Linked DNA regions of Homo sapiens: region 1 is linked to region 2. A link means that fine-mapping ties the variant in region 2 to the expression of a gene that starts in the linked region. Tissue or cell type: whole blood. Region 2 holds a variant in brackets; the other region holds the start of a gene. All regions are shown on one strand. Distances are between the middles of the regions.

Region 1 (2,679 bases), 540 kb before region 2:
ACAAGTGCCAAGAAAAGGAACACGAACAATATTCTGTGACCACAGCCAACACCACACAGAACTTCCCAGAAGCTCTCCAGGGCGAGAACACCAACCAGAAGGAAGTGACAGCTTCCATCATTCTGTGCTAAGTGAGCTGAGTGAGTGGCCGTCTCTCACCTTCCAGATATTTGAATGATACCTACCATTCCAGCAGCCAGCACAAGTCATTTAATATGAATGCCAAAAACACAATCCCTGAGGACAGGTGCAGGAGACCAGATGCCAGGAAAAACCCCGGCCCCACCCAAGAGTTGGGGAGAGCCCACTGCTCCTCCACCCTTATTTACCACCTGAGCCCCTGCACCCGCCAATCATGCTGCTCAGTCTGTAACTGCGGGTCTGAGTGAGCACCTACATTTGGCTGTTGAGGGGCAGCTGGTGGAGTTGGCAGGCGACTCTGCACTAAGTTCTCAGGTTGAATGGGAGTTGGGTCGAGGGAAGCAATGGACGCAGAGTTGGGGTGAAGAGTTGCGGTGGGTCAGCGGGGGTGAAAGGACATGGAGATGTCATTTTTAACAAGATTGGGTGAGGGTGGTAGGAAAGGAGGCAGCAAGAGTTCGGGACAGTTTGGCAAAGACTTAGGGATGGGCTGTCCTCAGTACGGCAGGAGACGCAAAGGAAGGTATACAGTGGCTAGGAGACTAAGGACGAGAAGACACAGTTAAGACTTGGAATAAGGCTGAGATCGGAGTTATCCAGAAGAAAGCGGTGAGCTCAACAGGGCACCTACTTTGGGGGTGGGTCTTAGATGAGAGGGCGGAGGTAGAATGTTTGGGATGAGCAGATCTTGGGGAGCTAGACGGGGGATGGGGGTGACTGGGATAAGAAAGCTGAGCCAGAAAAGGGGAAACCTGAATGGTGGGTCTCGGGGAGGTAAGCGCGGAGCATCGGGATTACCAGAGGGGTGGGGAGAGAGGATGAGGTGTGTCAGGGCGGGGCGAAGGGACGTGGCCGAGATCGGTGTTGGAACTGGGGTAAAGTGGGGTCACGAGTGAAGCTGCATTTAAGCAAGACCGCTGGTGAGGGGATGCGGGCGCGGGCTGGGGGCTGGACAGACGGAGGGGACGGGGCCACAGCGGCGGTGCAGGGGGAAGGCTGGGTCGGAGAGGAGCGGGCGCGGGCTGGACAGGGCTGAGGGCCCTGAAGCCGGGCAGTCTCAGGGTAACCAGGGGCTGGGAATCGCGGAGGGAGCGGGAGGCCCACCGCCCGTTCGCGCCTCGGCCCTCCCACCACTCCGCCGCCCTCCTCGCATCTTGACCCCCTAACTCACCAAGCGGAGCGAGGAGCGAGGCGAGGGGCGCTCCCGGCCGCGGCAGCCCCTCAGCCTCCGAGCCGACGATGCGGTCTCTCGGCCACTGACAACAGGAAGCGGCGCCCCGGCCCCTGACGCCATCACGTTGGCTCGGCGCTCCGGCCCTGCCCCGGCCCGCGGTGCCAATCGCGCAGCCCGAAGGAGCCTTGGGGCGGGGCCAGCTGCTCCCGGAAGTCCCTGGGAGCTGAGCCCCGGGGCAGATGCGAGGTCTGGGAGGCTGGGGAACTGGGGGCGCCTGCAGGGCGCAGAGAGGCGAAGGCACCGGTGTCAGGGAGAACGCATCCGTTACCGCCCGCCTCCCGCAGGTCTGCGTCAAACTAGATCCTGGCTTCTGGGTTCCTGACCTCGTTTGGCCTCAGAACCATCTGTGCAACATTGGGGCTGTCACTTCGCCTCCCTCAGCTGAAGAGTTCCCACTTGTGAGTGGGACTAATAACGCCTGCCCTATCTTTGCCTCTCCGAGGGCAGCAGTGCAGCCCGTGGGGCGGAGCCCGGGCCCAAATTGGAGCCTCCGCCTTGCGCTTTCAGGATAAACATAGCTGTTTTGACCACACTTTATCCCAAGGGAACGCCTTGAGGTCCCCTTGGGCACTCTCCCGTGTGTAACTCGCCCATTAGCACCGCCTGGCTTGAAGCTTAGGGGTCTGGTTATTCTCTTCTAGCCCGTGTAGAGGATTTCTTTCTTCCTTTCTGCTTTTTTTTTGAGACAGGGTCTCACTCTGTCGCCCAGACTGGAGTGCTGTGGCACGATCACGGCTCACCACAGCTTTGACCTCACGGACTAAGTGGTTCTCCCACCTCAGCCTCCAAGCAGCTGGGACTACAGGCGTGCACCACCACGCCCAGCTAATTTTTTCTTTTTTCTTTTTTTTTTTTTTTTTGCGACGGAGTCTGGCTCTGTCGCCCAGGCTGGAGTGCAATGGCGCGATCTCGGCTCACTGCAAGCTCCGCCTCCTGGATTGACGCCATTCTCCTGCCTCAGCCTCCCGAGTAGCTGGGACTACAGGAGCCCGCCACCACGCCCGGCTAATTTTTTTATGTTTTTAGTAGAGATGGGGTTTCACCGTGTTAGCCAGGATGGTCTCGATCTCCTGACCTGGTGATCCACCCGCCTCGGCCTCCCAAAGTGCTGGGATCACAGGCGTGAGCCACCGCGCCCGGCCAATCTTTTCATTTTTAAAAAAATTTGTTTATTTTGTAGAGACAGGGGTCTCACTGTGTTACCTAACCTGGTCTCCAACTCCTGGCCTCAGGCGATCCTCCTGACTCGGCCTCCCAAAGTGCTGGGATTACAGGCATGAACCACCACACCTGGCCTGTATATC
Region 2 (2,646 bases):
TAAGGGAAGGCAAAGTCCAGGCACAAGAGTGGGACCCCAGCCTCTCACTCTCAGTTCCACTCATCCAACTGGGACCCTCACCACGAATCTCATGATCTGATTCGGTTCCCTGTCTCCTCCTCCCGTCACAGATGTGAGCCAGGGCACTGCTCAGCTGTGACCCTAGGTGTTTCTGCCTTGTTGACATGGAGAGAGCCCTTTCCCCTGAGAAGGCCTGGCCCCTTCCTGTGCTGAGCCCACAGCAGCAGGCTGGGTGTCTTGGTTGTCAGTGGTGGCACCAGGATGGAAGGGCAAGGCACCCAGGGCAGGCCCACAGTCCCGCTGTCCCCCACTTGCACCCTAGCTTGTAGCTGCCAACCTCCCAGACAGCCCAGCCCGCTGCTCAGCTCCACATGCATAGTATCAGCCCTCCACACCCGACAAAGGGGAACACACCCCCTTGGAAATGGTTCTTTTCCCCCAGTCCCAGCTGGAAGCCATGCTGTCTGTTCTGCTGGAGCAGCTGAACATATACATAGATGTTGCCCTGCCCTCCCCATCTGCACCCTGTTGAGTTGTAGTTGGATTTGTCTGTTTATGCTTGGATTCACCAGAGTGACTATGATAGTGAAAAGAAAAAAAAAAAAAAAAAAGGACGCATGTATCTTGAAATGCTTGTAAAGAGGTTTCTAACCCACCCTCACGAGGTGTCTCTCACCCCCACACTGGGACTCGTGTGGCCTGTGTGGTGCCACCCTGCTGGGGCCTCCCAAGTTTTGAAAGGCTTTCCTCAGCACCTGGGACCCAACAGAGACCAGCTTCTAGCAGCTAAGGAGGCCGTTCAGCTGTGACGAAGGCCTGAAGCACAGGATTAGGACTGAAGCGATGATGTCCCCTTCCCTACTTCCCCTTGGGGCTCCCTGTGTCAGGGCACAGACTAGGTCTTGTGGCTGGTCTGGCTTGCGGCGCGAGGATGGTTCTCTCTGGTCATAGCCCGAAGTCTCATGGCAGTCCCAAAGGAGGCTTACAACTCCTGCATCACAAGAAAAAGGAAGCCACTGCCAGCTGGGGGGATCTGCAGCTCCCAGAAGCTCCGTGAGCCTCAGCCACCCCTCAGACTGGGTTCCTCTCCAAGCTCGCCCTCTGGAGGGGCAGCGCAGCCTCCCACCAAGGGCCCTGCGACCACAGCAGGGATTGGGATGAATTGCCTGTCCTGGATCTGCTCTAGAGGCCCAAGCTGCCTGCCTGAGGAAGGATGACTTGACAAGTCAGGAGACACTGTTCCCAAAGCCTTGACCAGAGCACCTCAGCCCGCTGACCTTGCACAAACTCCATCTGCTGCCATGAGAAAAGGGAAGCCGCCTTTGCAAAACATTGCTGCCTAAAGAAACTCAGCAGCCTCAGGCCCAATTCTGCCACTTCTGGTTTGGGTACAGTTAAAGGCAACCCTGAGGGACTTGGCAGTAGAAATCCAGGGCCTCCCCTGGGGCTGGCAGCTTCGTGTGCAGCTAGAGCTTTACCTGAAAG[G/A]AAGTCTCTGGGCCCAGAACTCTCCACCAAGAGCCTCCCTGCCGTTCGCTGAGTCCCAGCAATTCTCCTAAGTTGAAGGGATCTGAGAAGGAGAAGGAAATGTGGGGTAGATTTGGTGGTGGTTAGAGATATGCCCCCCTCATTACTGCCAACAGTTTCGGCTGCATTTCTTCACGCACCTCGGTTCCTCTTCCTGAAGTTCTTGTGCCCTGCTCTTCAGCACCATGGGCCTTCTTATACGGAAGGCTCTGGGATCTCCCCCTTGTGGGGCAGGCTCTTGGGGCCAGCCTAAGATCATGGTTTAGGGTGATCAGTGCTGGCAGATAAATTGAAAAGGCACGCTGGCTTGTGATCTTAAATGAGGACAATCCCCCCAGGGCTGGGCACTCCTCCCCTCCCCTCACTTCTCCCACCTGCAGAGCCAGTGTCCTTGGGTGGGCTAGATAGGATATACTGTATGCCGGCTCCTTCAAGCTGCTGACTCACTTTATCAATAGTTCCATTTAAATTGACTTCAGTGGTGAGACTGTATCCTGTTTGCTATTGCTTGTTGTGCTATGGGGGGAGGGGGGAGGAATGTGTAAGATAGTTAACATGGGCAAAGGGAGATCTTGGGGTGCAGCACTTAAACTGCCTCGTAACCCTTTTCATGATTTCAACCACATTTGCTAGAGGGAGGGAGCAGCCACGGAGTTAGAGGCCCTTGGGGTTTCTCTTTTCCACTGACAGGCTTTCCCAGGCAGCTGGCTAGTTCATTCCCTCCCCAGCCAGGTGCAGGCGTAGGAATATGGACATCTGGTTGCTTTGGCCTGCTGCCCTCTTTCAGGGGTCCTAAGCCCACAATCATGCCTCCCTAAGACCTTGGCATCCTTCCCTCTAAGCCGTTGGCACCTCTGTGCCACCTCTCACACTGGCTCCAGACACACAGCCTGTGCTTTTGGAGCTGAGATCACTCGCTTCACCCTCCTCATCTTTGTTCTCCAAGTAAAGCCACGAGGTCGGGGCGAGGGCAGAGGTGATCACCTGCGTGTCCCATCTACAGACCTGCAGCTTCATAAAACTTCTGATTTCTCTTCAGCTTTGAAAAGGGTTACCCTGGGCACTGGCCTAGAGCCTCACCTCCTAATAGACTTAGCCCCA

The links. PIP is the estimated chance that this variant, and not a neighbour inherited with it, causes the effect.
Region 1: it holds the start of PLEKHM1, and the variant in region 2 is fine-mapped to the expression of PLEKHM1 in whole blood (TOPMed, PIP 0.98).

Annotation. Positions count from the first base shown.
Region 1 is chr17:45,489,340-45,492,018 of GRCh38, forward strand. PLEKHM1 (pleckstrin homology and RUN domain containing M1) reads right to left here and starts at 1,382. Exons shown (of 12, transcript NM_014798.3): 1 at 1,313-1,382. It overlaps LOC105369225 (a long non-coding RNA gene), which reads left to right and starts at 1,533. Exons shown (of 5, transcript XR_002958152.2): 1 at 1,533-2,679.
Region 2 is chr17:46,025,475-46,028,120 of GRCh38, forward strand. MAPT (microtubule associated protein tau) reads left to right here. Exons shown (of 13, transcript NM_001377265.1): 13 at 1-2,646. Among named protein-coding and RNA genes, the nearest start is that of STH, 28 kb to the left of the region's middle. The variant G/A (reference allele first, on the strand shown) is at 1,507.